Regions from separate parts of the Homo sapiens genome. Here region 1 is linked to region 2. Evidence: fine-mapped expression QTL. Tissue or cell type: whole blood. Region 2 holds a variant in brackets; the other region holds the start of a gene. All regions are shown on one strand. Distances are between the middles of the regions. Region 1 holds the start of LRRN1 (leucine rich repeat neuronal 1). Region 2 has its middle 180 kb from the start of LRRN1.

What was found. PIP is the estimated chance that this variant, and not a neighbour inherited with it, causes the effect.
Region 1: LRRN1 starts here. The variant in region 2 is fine-mapped to the expression of LRRN1 in whole blood (TOPMed, PIP above 0.99).

What each region holds. Positions count from the first base shown.
Region 1 is chr3:3,795,564-3,803,902 of GRCh38, forward strand. It overlaps LRRN1 (leucine rich repeat neuronal 1), which reads left to right and starts at 3,868. Exons shown (of 2, transcript NM_020873.7): 1 at 3,868-4,356. It overlaps LOC100130207 (a long non-coding RNA gene), which reads right to left and starts at 5,312. Exons shown (of 6, transcript NR_149025.1): 1 at 5,138-5,312. RefSeq lists silencers at 3,769-3,838, 3,849-3,938, 4,079-4,188, 6,722-7,016.
Region 2 is chr3:3,979,794-3,988,132 of GRCh38, forward strand. It overlaps the pseudogene PNPT1P1. Among named protein-coding and RNA genes, the nearest start is that of LRRN1, 180 kb to the left of the region's middle. The variant G/A (reference allele first, on the strand shown) is at 4,302.

The DNA.
Region 1 (8,339 bases), 180 kb before region 2:
GGGTGAGTTTTTCCTGTGCTGTTCTCATGATAGTGAATAAGTCTCAAGATCTGATGGTTTTCTAAGGGGCAGTTCTCCTGCACATGGTCTCTTGCCTGCTGCCATGTAAGATGTGCCTGTGTTCCTCCTTTGCCTTCTGCCATGATTGTGAGGCCTCCCTAGCCATGGGAACTATGAGTCCATTAAATCTCTTTTTCTTTATAAATTACCCAGTCTTGGGTATTTCTTCATAGCAGTATGAAAATGGACCAATACAATGACTGTCAACATCTCTGCAACAACTAAGTTCTACAAGTGGAAACAGGACCCTTTATTCAGTCAGGAATAAAACATTATTTGATATATCTGCAAAGCTGCAACTCAACTAAAATTGTAACAGCACCATAAACCTATTAATGTTAGTTCTATTTAGAACCGCCCACCATCTTGGTTTATCCAAGACTAAGGTGTGACCTGAGATGTTGAGATTTTTAGGACTAAAACCTGGAGATTCCCAGGCAAACTAAGATGGTTGGTCACTTTAGTTCTATGTCAAATTTTTAAGCTTAAATGCAAAAACTAGTTTTAATTACAGAAACGTCAATTAATCCCTTTTTTGTGTTGGGATGTTTCATATGCAGTAAACAAACAAACAAACAAACAAAACCCGAGAAGAACAGGAACTACGTATATGTAGTAAACCCACTCATTGTCAAAAATTCTTAGAGAAACAATACATTTGGTATGAAAGTTAACAATGATCACAATAGTCACAAAATTTTAAGCTACAGTCATCACCCTCTAAGAGCTTGGTGGTGGTTGTTTTAAAATCATAATTTCAGTTCAGAAATTGGAAAGAACTCTGACTACCGGTACTCTATTAATATTTCAATTAGAGAGAGACATATTTTCAACTTTGAAAAATTGCAGTTTTAAGAGGCATATGATAATTTTCTTTTCAAAATACAGATGTTCTTCTAAAGATTATTCAAATACGACTGTCTTCTGAAGTTTCATCTTTCTTTTTTTTCCTCATTTACCACATAGATCAGTACAATTAGGCTAACACCAATGATAATGTTCCTTCAAACCAAAGCTAAAGAACCTCAAGGGGCTGGTAGGGGAATCCAGAGGGGTTTGTAGTGTCTCAACACAGCCAATCGAGGGGCAAGAACTCTTTACATCAACAATAAGACCTTGCTCTCCTGGGAACTCTTGGGCTCTTGTCTCCAATTCCGTTCTCCTTCAAAAATTCCAAGGTCTTCTACCACACCTTAATAAATAACTATTAAGTGCTTTTTTACTAACTAATAAATTCAGGATCCCAGGACTGGGTGAGCTCATTAGGAGTAATTCAGATGGATTTGAGCTCTTTAAGCAAGAAGCAAGTAAGAGATTTGGTTATGCTGGTTCATTGATTCCTCTTCGTCCAATGATGCAAAAATGCGTGTTTCCTCTTCATCCATCCCAATGACAAGGAGCTTTTAAGTGTCAGTTAACAAGACAGTCCCGAAACCCCTTTGCAGAGTTAAAAAAGGGTAATTTCTAAAATTTGGACCAATTACCAATTCAGGCAATTCAGCAAATTTCTAATAATTACACCACATTTCAGACTCTTTCATAATTGTCATGCTCATTTTTCCTCTTCTGTCCACAGCAAGCCCCATCCTCTCACCCAAATTCCTTCCCCCATCCCTGACACACATTTCTTCCTAATGATAATGCTCTTCTCTCTGTCTGGAACCAAATGCATGCAGTGGTCAAGTAGAAATGGGAAAAGCTGCCTTTCTCACTCTTGCCTTGGGGAAGAGGGAAATTAGTTTAAATAAATGATATGCTAATTTGAAAAGAAATGAATCGAACAGTGGAGAGACAGAGTCCATTTCCTCCACTGGAGCAGCTAGTGCCTTTGAGATATTCTGTCACATGCGGAATCATTATCCCACCTGTCTGAATTGATGTCTTGTTTTAGTCTTCAATACCTGCCTAATAATGCCTAGAGCTTACATCTGTCGTTGAATGCTTACTATATACTAAGCACTGTCCTAAGCATTTTACATGTTTACTCCCACTTAACCATCACAATCCTTTGGGATAAGTACTGATATTAACCCTACTTTAGAGCCAAGGAAATTAAGCCTTAAAGAGATAAAGTGACTTGCCATTAGGGACACAGCTCATAAATTGCAGGGCTGGGACCTAAGCAGTGTTGGCCTGGTTTCAAAATTCACACCTTGGTCCCTGACTCACACCATTCTCATGAAGTCTCTTCCAAAACCTGGAGGCTGTTCTAGATCTGGCCTCCCAAGAGCAACTCTCACCATCATTAATTGCTCCGACTGCTCCTCCAAGACCTACCTCTGTAAAGCTCCTCCTTGAAGGGCACAACCTCATCTCTCTTCCACTCCCAGGAAGGCAGGCTGGAAACCTAATAGAGACTCCCTAAGAAACCTGCATTCTATCTTTCCCTGACCATTCAATTTCCGTACTTCCACCAGAGCCCAACTTCTATCAGACAAACTCCATGCTATCTGCATGCTAACTCCATGGATAATCTGCATGAAAAGGGGGGAAAGAGACAAAATCATGTTACAAAACTTGGGCAAGGGTCTAGACTCAACTTGCTTTGAAAGATCTTAAATCTTCCCATTCATTTGTAGACAGCAGTGGGCCTTTTTCTTCCTCTGCTCTGCACGACCTTCTAGCCCAAGTGCTAGTATCACCTTTTCCTAAAGACTTTTAAGACAAACTGTGACCATTTATGTCTACATGACACAGTTTCAGGATAACAAAGTGTGAAGACACACAAAGACGTCAAACATTTATCAGAGACCTAAGCGAAACGCCAATAAATGTTACAGGGATCAAGAATATGGTTACTGACATTGAATGTATCCTGTGGCTTTGAAGAATCCAAAGGATGATTCTCGAATAATGTATCCTTCCAAATTCTCCAGAAGTTCTAAGTTTAGACATCATAATGAAATGTCACCACGTTCCTCTGCCAGAAGTTGTTCAGTACTGAGGGGCTAATGATGCTTTCGCTTAAAGCCGATTCCCCCAATAAAGGGTGCCAAGGCTTTTCTGAAGCCCTGCTTCCGGCTGGCGACTTTGAAGCTGAGACGCAGGTTCACGCGCAGTTTCCGAAGACCTATTCCGTCCCCACCCTCCTCCCCTTCCTCGGAGACACCTCCACTTAACACTGCCTTCTCAGTCCCTCGCCGCCTGTTTAAACACAACTTCCACCCCTCACAAATCAGAAAGCTGTAATTTCAAAGTTTCAGAAACGTTTTCGGAAAGCCTCCTCCAATGGGAAGCGACTTCGCCGCTGAGTTAAGCGTCCGAATCCTCCTTCCCGCGGCAGGGACACCGGCCCGGGCCAGGTCTGCGGAGGACGCCCCCGGGCGCGCACACACAGCCCGAGGACGCGCCCTGTATTTTAAGACGCAGGGTCGGATTTCACCCCGAAACTTGGCTCCCACAGCCCCAGGCCGAACTGTGTCTGGTTCTCAGCCCCCGAGCCCGAGTTCTACGCCGCAAAGAGATGGGGCCCCATTGTGCCTAGCTGGCCTCCTAGCACGGACGTGTATTTTCTTTTGGTCTGTCTTTTGCTAAAAACCGGCAGTGCGCTTCGCCTCCCTGCCCAGCCGCAGCCTGCCGTCCCCTAGACAAAAAGCGGCGACCGCGGCCCGGCCACCCGAGCCCCGCCGCGCTGCGCCTTTGTTGGGCGGTCCACAGATGGTGCCCAGCACGGGGCCGCGCCGAGGGCGGGGGCGGGAGGCCGCGAAGAGGGTCGGGCGGGAGGGGAGGAGACGGCGGAGCAGCCAATCCGCGCGCGGCCCATCAGCTGACCGCCTTTGCTTACACCAGGTGCACGCCGGCTGCGGGGAGCACAAAGCGGGGCGCACCGCGGGCGCCGGCAACGAGCCGGTGAACGAGGCGAGGCCCGTGCGCCCGCGGCTGCAAGCGCCCGCCTGGCGGGGAGAGGGGCCGACGGCGTCAGCCCGGGCGGCGGCATCCCTAGGCGCCTGGGGCGCCTTCCTCCGGACCTGGCCGCTCGCTGCCCCGCCCTCTGCACCCCACTTCTCCGACCCTCCTTCCCAGTCCTGCCTCCCCCTGCCCTGGCCTCTGAGAGCCGACTGAGCCCAGCCCCGTGCAGCAGCGGTTGCCTGTGTCGCCGCCTAGTCTCCGGTCTTGGTGCTCTCCCGGGGGTGCCCCAAGGAGCCAGTGCGCGCTGCGGGCTGGGAAGGAGGCGCCGCTCAGCTAGTCCTCCTCCTCCTCCTCGTCTTTCTCCTCCTCCTGCTGCTGCTGCCGCCGCCGCCGCCGTGGGTGCCGGGTCCGCGCGCACCCCAACACCCCCACCAGCTGGGCCTCGGGGTAAGTCCCTGGCCGGCCGCGCCGCGGCAGGAGGTGTGGGAGGCAGCGAGGGGAAGTCGAGGCAAACTTGGTGGCGTGGGAGACCCTACGGGGTCTGGGGAACCTCAGGGTAAGATCGCGGGCCTGAGGGGGACGAGGGGGCGCGGCTCACGGAGCTGGGGAAAATGACGAAGTCGGGAAACGAGAATATAGTGCCCCGTTTCCCCCCGTCCCCCTTGCCAAAAAAAAAAAAAAAAAGGTGTGGGAGAGCGATAGTTGGGAAGGCAGGCCAGATAGAAACAGGCAAAAAAAGGCAGTGACCGGAGCCGAGCCTGCTGGATTTCAGGGGCCGACCAGGGGAGGGAGGTGCCCGGGGACGGGGAGGGAGGAGGGCTGCCGGGATGTGAACCGGGGAAGGCAGCTGGGGCTGGAGAGCAGCGCGGAAAGGGGGCCCAGGGAGCTGGAAAGAGGGCCAAGAGGAGGGCAAGGAAGGTGGCGGGCGACGGGGAGAGGAAAGAAAAAGGGTGTCTTGGCGGTGGCCTTGGTAAGAGAAAGGGGCAAGGGGTATAATTGACAAGGCACTGAAAGTATTGAAGTCAGAGCCTTGGGAAGGATCTACCGAACTCTCGGCGGTCCACGCGGGGACAGACCTCAGCCCGTGAGCCTTGAGCTCCACGCGGGGACAGACCTCAGCCCGTGAGCCTTGAGCTCCACGCGGGGACAGACCTCAGCCCGTGAGCCTTGAGCTCCACGCGGGGACAGACCTCAGCCCGTGAGCCTTGAGCTCCACGCGGGGACAGACCTCAGCCCGTGAGCCTTGAGCTCCACGCGGGGACAGACCTCAGCCCGTGAGCCTTGAGCCCAGAAGGAGTGGCAGCCTCAGGACGTTTGCCAGGTGGCCTGGAATGTGAGGGAAGCCTCAGCCCCGCCAGGAACAGAGCTGGCGCTGAGTTCCCGGCTCGGCCCGGGTCAGAAGCGAGGAAAGTTTGCCGGCGAGTGTCCTTTGTGCTGCGTGGAGAGGGGTGTGGGCGGCCGCCGACTCGGCGCTTCCCCGCCGCCCGCCCAGGGAGTCCCTGCCTGGCAAGCTGGGGCTCGGGGAAAAGTCCAGCAGCGAGAGGGCCGCGTGTCCCGGGACGGTTCCAGGGGAGCCCGCGCGGAAACGCGGACCAGGCGCTTCGGCCCGGATGCCGGATCCAGGAGAAGGGGACCTCGCTTGCCGTGTCCACCGCCGCGGCCCCAGCGCCAAGAACAGAGCCTGGCCGTGAGTGAACGACTGGCCGGGGTACAAATGGTTCTGAAGCACTTGAAGCTCACAGGCAAAGGCTAAGAGTCTAAATCCCATCCCGCCGTAAGTATTTTCATTCCCAAACCTAAATCGTAAAGGAAAAGTGGAATTCTAATTGGGTGAGGGAACAGGTGCTGCCGACTCTGGCTTTTGCGTGGAGGATTTTCTAAAAGACAACATGTTTTGTTTTGTCTTGCCATGACAATCTAAATCATGTTAGTGGAATAGGCTCATTATTTCATTTTTAAAAGCTAGGGCTGGAGGAGTGGAAAGTTCAGGAAGGCACTTTGATCAGTATAAATCTAGAGTAAAAGTGTTATTGGCTCCAGGGCCATATGTGTCCCGAAGTCTCTGATTTGCATGCAAATGTGAGCGGATCCTGGCAGATGTCTGGCCTCATCCATTCACATGAAGGAATTTGAAAAGACAAGGAGTCTTCAGTTAACAATAGACCTTAAGAAAAGAGAATAAAGACGCAGTGTGAGTTTTTCTGTTTGGGAATTCCATGGTTTGCTGACACCTTTATTCAGGAGCCAAATTCTTTAAGTGCTATTGTATTGAAAGCTCAAAGTGCTGCTTGCTCTTTACCTGGCTGTATATATTCGTGCAATATTCAAGCTGGATATTCTAAGCTAGTTAGGAAAAGGTTTGTGTGAAGCAGACAGTAACTTTAACCCACTTCTGGCGGCTTGAAGTGATTTCTGAATTGACCCCTCAACTTTTCGAGTTTTCTTTTAATAATTTGACTCTTGCTCAAATTTGGTCCTCATCTTCAGAGCTATTCATTATAGTAGAAGATCGTTGTCGTTGACCGACATGAAGATTTCCTGAGAATGTCCACTGTCTAGCTGAGAATGTCCACTGTCTAGCCAAAGTCATTTCGGTTCTTAAGGCACCAAACTGTAGAACTGCAGGTGATGCAACTGTCCCAACCCTAGTTACCCGAGTGGTTTTCAGGTCACATAACAGTGAACGGGGAGGTAGTCGTGCAGTAGACTCTGGAGCAAGGGCCTTTCTGCCGTGTCTAACATTAGCTGCGTGACCACACTGCACTGTTCACCTCTTGGCGTTGTGCGACAGCTGAACAAAAGGCAGGCAGTGTGGGCCGCACGTGAGGCAGGCGATTATATTAATACCTACGACTAACCAGCCCCAGTGGCCTCTTCTTTTGTCAACCTCAAACACTGTTGAAGGGAAAAAGAACCTATTCACGGAACAGCATTTGCCCCAGTATTCTATATATTCACTGAAAGGGACATTAAAATACAACACCCCCCCAACCCCCGCCAGAAAAAAAAGACAACATTGTTTTGGAGGGCTCAGTGTTTCGGGGGAGGGGTGGACAACAGATGTTAGTCTGCTATTTTACATGTTCCTTTAAGTTATTTTTGCAGGTTCAGTGCCTTTTATACATAAGGCAATATTTTCACAGGATGGGGAAAAATGAATTGAATCAAATTTAAGTAAGAAAATGTTATAGCCAAGTTTGCATTTTGTGTCTTAGAGCTATATAGAAGTCAGAAAGTAACAAATCATTCTAATAAACTCTTAATTTGACTCTACACGCCTGATGTCTTCCTGATAGAGTTGAAGGGTAACTTAAAATAAACTTGACATTTCTAGACTATAAACCATTTTGTTGTAAAGTTATCTAGATATTTTTGAAACCTGGTAAGTTAAAAATGACCCTCACATTTGTGAAACCTTATCTTTGGCAATTAACCTGCCTGTGTAATCGTTATTCTGCAAGTCTAATGAAAGGACAGATTAGAACTCATTCCTTGGTAAATAAAACTGATAAAGTGTTTAATTATTAGAAAAGGATCATTCTGCTAAATAAAAGATCTCAAGACCAGATCCAACTGCAGACTGTGTTTCTAAAACATAACCTCAGCTAGCTCTGGTTAATGTCTGAAATTCTGGGAAAGCAAGGAAAAACTCAACCATTGATCTCTCTCTGGTTAGTCTGTGCTAAGGCCACCTTCTTGATCTAAACTGCTAGAGCCATTACCACATATTCTAAAGCAGTGACACTCATGGGAATATACTAGGTACTAAAGAAAATCGGTCTCTACGGAGTTATATTGCTACTTCCCAAGCCAGTGGAATATAAATAATAATGATAAATAATCAGAATGGTGGGCTTTTTATACCACCATAAGTAGGCCATAAGTCATAAATAAAATATGGTAAATTATAGGATGCAGATGCCAGTTTTACGAGACTTGCACAATGCTTACTTAAAATTTATTTTTAAGTTACAAAATAATAGTTCCCCGAATGATTCATTTCAGCACTAATGTCAGGTTATTCAAATATTGTATTTAATTTTAAAAAATTATGCTGAACATCTGTTTTGGGTTAAGCCAATCTGGAGATAAAGCAAATTCCATTGTAGAATCATATGATCATTTAGAATCATATGTTTCTGGGAACAATGAAAGTATCTTTAACTCATGAATAGAGCTCTGATTAATATTTAATTCAGGATGAAATTATATGGATGAAGTCAGAAAAACATTTATTCTCTCTTGTTTTGGCTCAAAGTACAGAATAGAGATAAAAGTTAAACCCTATCTGTAAAATTCAATACTTTAGTGACCAAGGGATCCATTTGTTCTAAAGGTCTTTTTAGGTGAAGTTTGCTTTTTAATTTCTTGTTTTAGCATATATTAGCATTCACCTGCTTTACAGATCTGTTACAGAATGTAGCCTCCCG
Region 2 (8,339 bases):
CTAGATGGAACTATCATCTTACCAGTGTCAGCCTTGAATTGGTATCTTTTCTTTACTCTTTCCCTACAGCCAACCATCAGTAAGACCTCCTAAGTGTATCTCGAAAACATCTATCCACTTTCTCTGACCCCACCTTAGTCCAAGCCACCAACATCTTGTTCCTGGACTGCCTCCTAACCTCTCTCTCTGTTCTGATTTTTCCACTTCCAGTTCATTTGCCACACAGTAGCCAGAGTGATCTTTTAAAGACATTCCGTTTACAATAAAATCCAAACCCCTCACCATTGCCTATAAGATCAGGCATTATTTGTCCGCTTACTTCTCTAATCTCATGGCGTGCCACCTTCTTCCTTGACCCCTCTGCTCCTGGTATACTGAACTCTCTAAATTCTCAAAACATACCACGCTTTTTCTAGTGCAGGACCTTTGTACATGCTGCTCCCACTGTCAGGAGTGCTCTTTTCATTGTGAAAGGCTGGTTCCTTTTATAATTCCGGGCTCATGTTATATGTCACTTCTAAAAAAGAGGCCTTTCCTGATCACTCATCTCAATGACATATTTTTTTTAATTTAATCTTTCAATTTCAATTAATCTTTAATATTTCAGAAAGTATATCAACATTGCCTAACATGCTGTTTTACACACAATAGATACATGATCAATGTTTGATATAAATATACATATCTTTAAAATCTTTGGTTTAACCAGCTAAACTTTTAATATTTTATGAACTAGTTAGCCCTGAGTCATAAATTTACCTACTTTTTTTTTTTTTTTTTTTGAGATAGTTTCACTCTCTTTGCCCATGCTGGAGAGCAGTGACGTGATCTCAGCTCACTGCAACCTCCAACTCCCAGGTTCAAGAGATTCTCCTGCCTCAGCCTCTCAAGTAGCTGGGATTACAGGCACCTGCCACCACACCCAGCTAATTTTTGTATTTTTAGTAGAGACAGGGTTTTGCCATGTTGGCCAGGCTGGTCTCGAACTCCTGACCTCAGGTGATCCACCCGCCTCACCCTCCCAAAGTGTTGGGATTACAGGCACAAGTCAGCATGCCCGGCCAGATTTACTTATTTTTTATGAGATTTAAAACTGTTTTTAGAGATAGAGTCCTGCTATGTTGTCCAGGCTGGAGTGAAGTAGCTATTCACAGGCATGATCATTGCACACTACAGTGTTGAACTTCTGGGTTCAAGTGATCTTCCGACCTCAGCCTCCCAAGTAGCTGGGACTACAGGCATGTGCCACTGAGTCCGGTGTATTTTTATAAGATTTTTAAAAAGATAACATATTCTAAATTATGACGTCCACATACCATTTACTTTTGTGTGGAATTATAAGGTGATATTTTAAATGATGGGAATGAACAAGTTGACATGTATATCAGTAACCTCTAAACATCTATTTCAAACATCTATTAACTGAAAGTGATGATTCCTCCAGCTCTTATACTAAGAACTTCCATACATTAGAGCAATATACATATTCAAAAAGTGACCTAGTTCAATTAGACAAGTAAATAATTTTCCTATGTTTAGGTAAATTTGAAAAATATACATAATTACTACCTCATCCTAGTTAGAATCTCATTTATATTTATTCCACTATGTTCATGATTTTGTAACCAACTTGGAAGGCATCGTATTATTAAAAGTGTATCAGATTAGCTCCCTCAACTTACTATGTCTAGTAACCATTCTGAAGAAATAGGCACTGGCTTTGAATATGGCCTGTTCCAGTTTGTGAACAGTCGTAGGCAAGTAAAGTTGTTGGGCAAAGAGGTGAGCTATAGGATGACTGAGGGTAAATTGTCACTACTGTATATAAAGAAGACAAATGAGATATAGGAAGAGATCTGTTATAATAACATATATGACATATATCTAAGTTTTTCATATATTTCAGAATTATAGAAAAAAAAGTATGTAATCTTTTCTAAGATGTATGGATGACTTACTTTTAATAATATTTCTTGATTTATAATGTAAATAAGATTAAGCGAATATGGGTTACTCTTGAATTTAAAAATTGGCACATGTAAATGAGCATTTTAATACAAATAATTAGAATATATTTATACTGTATACACAGCTACACAACGGAAGATACTACTAAAATTTTGCTCTATAGCACATTACCCTAGAAAACATAGAATTCTAGAATTCTCTTTAAAAAGATCACTGAGAATTATTAGATGATGACTGTGAAATAGGTTCTCCCAGTACAATACTACTTCTGTCATTCAAAGTTCTGACAACAGTTGTAGCTGAAGACTGAAGCACTTTATGAGAAAGCCTCATTCTTCCATCAGCTGGGTCACATCCAAAGTATTTCACCTGAATTTCTTGGCCAACTTCTAATCCTAGGGCAGTAGGATGTTTAATATTTCATTGATCAAGTTGTGTGTTATAAAGCAGTACCAAAATCATATTTGGATATAATTTTACCATTACACCAGTATCTCTGCTTTCAGTTATTGTGGCAGTACACACTGCTCCAAATTCTAATTGCTGCTCCTGATCATCCTTGCGGATTTCAGCAATGAAGTCTCTTGCCTCATGCATAGCACCGGGTGTTGGTGCAAATATAGAAAACGTTTCTTCATCCACCTGACTAATAGTTACAACTGTTTCAGCCTGAAGTTTTTTAAGTTATATCCACCTGGTCCAACAAATTTTTCTCATTTTGATAATGGAACCTGAACAGTTTCTACAACAGGTCCATTTTCTTTTCTAGATGCTTGAGGTTTTGAAATAGCTTTGTTCATGATCTGTAAAATCTCCTTTTTGCCACTGAAGCTTGTTGAATAGCCTCCATTACAATTTTCATTGTTATTCCAGGTAATTTAATATCTGCCTGTAATGCAGTTATTCCTTTATTAGTGCCAGCTATTTTGAAGTCCATGTCACCATTGTAAGCTTCAATTCCCAGAATATCTGTTAGCAAATGATAATCTTCTATTTCACCCTTCTCAAGATCGGTTTTGGTGGCCAATCCCATTGCTACACCTGTGACAGCAGATTAAATTGGAAGCCCTGAATCCATTAATGCTAAACTTCCACCACATGCAGATGCCATAGAAGATGACCCATTTGACTCTAGGACTTCAGATGTAACTCTTATGGCAAAAGGAAAATCTTTGGGAATAACAGGATACAAAGCTTTCTCAGCAAGAGCATCAGGCCCAAGTTCTCTTCTATTTATACCGGTGACTTTGACAATTTCATTAGTTGCATAAGGAGGAAACTCATAGTGCAGCATGAAATTTTTATCTTTTATCCCATTTATAGTTGTTATAACTCGATCCAACTTAATACTGGATTCTAATGAATCAAATGTAACAGCACAAAGCAGCTGTGTTTGTCCTCTTTGAAATAATTCTGATCCATGAAGGGTTTTAAACATATCTACCTCACAACTTATATTCCGAAGTAAAGTCAAATCCCGACCATCGCATCTTTTGTATTCATTCAAAATAATACTTCTAAAAACTTTCTTTGCAACAGTATTGAAGGATTCTATTATCTCATATAGATCGACCTCTGGAAATATTTCTTTTAGTTGTTCCTCTGTATCTAATCTTATTTTGTTAACAGCTTCATCTCTGGAAATTTTATCATGTTCATAATCTGTAAAAACTGCATAGAGTCTCTCCATAGTGAGTTTATGAGCATGTTTCACAATCTCTTGTGAAGGGGTAAATAACTTCTGAGGTGTCCTCTTGGTAACACCAATTTCTTTTACCAGCTGCTGGATGCCCTGAATTATTTGCTGGGTATATTTCACTCCCACTTTGATAGCGTGGCAAAAGTCCTGCTGTAAAATGTTCTCTGCAGAGGCTTCCAACATGACAGTCTGACTTTTAGGTGCTCCAGCAACCACTACATTTAAAGTACTAGAAGACATTTCTTTTCTTGTTGGGTTAACAACACATTCTCCATCAGTCATTCCTATTCATACTGTCCCAACAGGTCCATTCCAAAGAATATCTGATAATGAGAGGGCTACAGAGGTTGCCATTAATTGCTAGGACATCAAGTTCATTAATACCATCTACTGCTAACAGATTACACAGAACCTGTATATCACAGAAGTAGCCAGCTGGAAAGATAGGTCTAACTGAACAATCTACTATTCAACGTGTAAGAATTTCTTTATCAGAAGTACTAATCTCTCTTCTCAGAGGGTTTGTGGGAATTCTACCTACTGCAGCAGCCTTTTGTCCGTAGTCAACCACCAAAGGCATAAACTGGGAAGGGGAAGGTTTTGTTTTACTGACGGCTGTGGCCATTACCGCAGT[G/A]TCACCTGACTGTATTACAGCAGAGCCATTTGCAAATCTGGCCAGCTTTCCAGAGGATATTTCTAATTTCCTGTTGCCCAAGTCCATGGCCACAGCTTGAGACCCTGTGCTACTCAATAGTGCTCGCACCTGCAACTGGATGAGTGCCCGATCCCACCCTGGCAGACAGAAGGGACCATCACTCAGCGGCCGGAGCCACAGGCTCAGTGAGGTCTTAGCTTCCTCCTGTTATCCTCTGTAGCAATGCCTTAGTGTTTCCTTCACAGCACTTATTACAATTTGTAGTCATTTACTGATGTGATTATTGGTTATTATCCCTCATGAGTCTCACAGCTAAATGACAGCAGGGATCAAGTCTGTCTTCTTCCCTGTGTCACAGCTGTATCTGGCACCAAGCACATACAAGGCATTTGATAAGTATTCTTTAACATAATGAAAATGAAGTACATTTATAACACTATTCTTTCTACCCAAAGAGAACAAAAAAATTATGGACTTCCATTCTGTGTCAATATATTCAACAGGATAGAAGAAATAACACAACTGAAGGTTGCAAAATACTGAAAGTTATCAACGCTTATTCTCTAGAGATCCTTGTTAAACAATGTCCCATCCATCAAGGGTGAATTAGATTTGTCCCTGGCTTGAGGACAGAATAAGATGACTTCACCCGACTCCTTATAAACTTATAATTTTATGAAAAATCCATGAGCTCTCATCTTTCCAGCACTCTGATAACGAGGTAATTACCCTTTTAATGAAAAAGGAAGCCTTTTTATATCTATCCCCATTGAATTATGGACCTCAAAATTGAAATGAAGTCTAATAGACATCAAGCACAACTACCTGCCAGTTCCTAACAAGGATGAGGAAAAAAAAATAGTGATATCTGGGGAGCCAACGGGCAGTATGACAGGGTGTCCTTCCTGCCTTCTCTGATGACACTTTGCTATCAACACCAGTTCTTCCTTTTGTGCCTTACTCAGTTTGTAAGCCAGTCTGCAACAGTAGAAAAGTCATTAGTCACCCTTCCCTATCTGTTCCATGGGCTTTGAAATGAAGCCCTGGTTCAGGTTCCCATTTAGGTGTGACTTTCTCCATTCCTACTATGTTGACTGTAATCAAAGGGCTGGGCTCAGTCCTGACAACACGTTCAGATCCCACACTGCACTAGCCCTGCTCTAGAATCTCAATCTATTTTCCCAGTGTCCTAAGACCTGTCAAAGCCCCTGCCACCAGCCTCTTCCACTACTGACTGAGCTCTTCCATCAAACGACTGATTAATGGAACCACAACACCGACACCCCACATGAATTGCACCCGGAGCCCACAATCCATACTCCTTCCCCATGCTCCTTCAGTTTATCGATGCTGTTTAATTATCAGTAGTGGCTCGGATTAAGCCCTAAACATCTAGCTACCCTGTTCCACAGCCAAGACTGTTACTCTCACTCCTCACTCCTAGGTCTTGCCTAACTCCCCCCATTTCAGGTATTTTATAGCTGAGTCTCTACAAGTTATCACTCACAGCTAAATTCACACTTTTACTTGGTCTCTACATTTTAATCCTTGGTGATCTCTTTTTATGCAATTGCCAGTTTAGAGGCATAATCTTGTAAACCTTTACCTTCTGGACAGTAGCATCGGAAAGTTCATTACTTTCAGTTACGATACAACAGCGAGTGACAAATGCAGCTTTGGAAAGCGGAAAACTTCTTTCTCCTTGAGAGTCTCTGCACAACTTTCCACATTTGGAACCCAAGGACATTTCCTTTCTCTCTCTGCTAACATGGAGTACAGAAAGGTTACATTAGCTAATAAAAGCCCTCTGCTGACAAAAGATGCGTTTGAAAAGTCACTCGAAAAGGGAGCTCTCTCGATAGCTTTATTAAAATAAAATGCCATATCTTTGTGAAGTTAAAAGTCTCTGGATTGTGGTTAAAAGTCTGGTCTGCTCCTTATACAATGGAAAGTCTTTCAAAAGCCACGTGTTTCTTAAGCTGGCCTCACCATGCATAACAGCTAGAATATAAATCTAGACTCTCGCCGCCCATCTATCTTTTCTTTTCTGTGTCATGTAGAGGTTCCTATGTGAAGGAAAGATCTCCAGAATAAGATGAGAGATAGCTTTTATAAGAACACCAAATGATAGAAATTATGGAAATCATGATATTGAAATAATTTCTTCCAAGTTAAAACATCAGGAACATTTTTGCTTATCAGATAGGCAAGAATACTTAAATTTGAATGTTGGTCAGCATTCAACAAGAAGGCAGTGCCTAGACCCTTGGCTTATGAATTGGGGGCAATTGCAGCTTCCTTCATTCCTCTGAAGGGTTGAGAACTTATGCAAAGCCATGGGTGCAGTGCTGTCCGACGCCCTGCAGAGGTGATGCCAAGAGTAAGGCTAAATATGCCGTTTTTGAGAGGGAGCCCAGAAAGCCAGACTTCAGCAGACACCAAAGAGTCTATTGAACTACTCTGATGGGAGGATATGCAAGAGCAATGCTGAATAGTAACACCCCTGAAGAGAGACACCATGGAAAGTAGTTGTCGGACTTGTGGCTACAAACAACAAGAAAGTCCTTCGCCTGGAGCTGCCTCTGGAAAGAGCAGCTAGACTCTAGCTGGAGAGTCTGACAGAGAAACACTTCCTAGCAGAGGCTCAGCTTCTTGCCCTTCCAGAATGAGAGGCTGTGTGGTTTTGTGTTCAAGATCACGCTATGAACATGATATGAACGGTTGGTATGTCGAGACACCTTCATTGAAAAGAGAGAATAAGAAATTGCTCCCTGAAACCTAGAATAGATGGTGCCCCAGGATTGATCACAATAATCATTGGGAATATACATTGTAGAGACCTCAGATTCCTATTGCACATGTGTCCTACAAAGAAGGGTTACAGAGATTCTATCTTGAATTGTTTGTGAATTTTTCCACATGCATTACTTTTGCTGGATTATAAACTTCTACAACACAACCATATGTTTCACTTCTTATAAAATCTCTCACAGGGTCTAAGTCAAAGTCAAAGGACCGTCATTAATCAGTTGATTGGCACTAGAGTGGTTGGCCTAGCGTTGGTGGACATAGTCATTCTCAGTGTCAGAAAATCTTGCACCCTATCGGAAAAGCGTAAGAGGAAACACAAAAATTAAACAGAGGATACAGCAACATAATAGTTCTATAAAGATAGTACATACTGGGAGTCTAAAAAACATCCATATCTTTTGACATAAATCTATTGCTAGAAAATCATCCTACCAAAATATCTAAAGAGTAAAGAAACTTTATGAAGAAAGTCATTCTTTGAACAGAATATAGAAGCAGAAAAATTTTGAAACAATCTAAATATCAACAATAGAGGATATGTTATATAAACTAAGAATCTTCTTCTGTGTAAACCTGCTATTAAAAATAATGCTTAAGAAGTATTTTCAAAGGTTTAACAAGTGGTTATGACGTAATGTTCGGCAACAAACAATTGTATACAAACTAGGATCTCAATTATGTTGAAGTGTGTAGAATATTGACAGTGGGTATTTCTGAGTGGTAGGATTTGGGGTGTTTCTAATTTTCTTGTTTGAACTTTCTATTTTATACTTTTCAAGTTTCCTGCAATAGTAATGTTTTACTTTTATAATCAAAAAACTATTGAAATAATACTTTAAATTATGCATGTGAAAAGATTACCTGGTCCAGGTGGTCATTGTATCCAGCTGAAGGTGTTAAATCTAGCTAGACTCTGGCCTGGGTCTTGAGAGGTTAGTATCTATACCCCACCTTCCCTTCTAAACAGGTTAGCAAGCTGGCAAGCTGGTAAAGGAGCCTAGCCTCTTCCTCCCTACAGGACACTGCAACATCAAAACAAAGCCTCTAAATACTCCCCTAAAGACAAGGAAGACTAATATCTGTGACGTAGCTATTCTCTTCTGGGACATAGAGGAAAAAAATAGGTCTCTCTCATAACAAGACACCATTCATTTCTCAGGTTAAGCTGCCATTACCTTCGAACACACAGAAGCTGAGGGCTGTTTC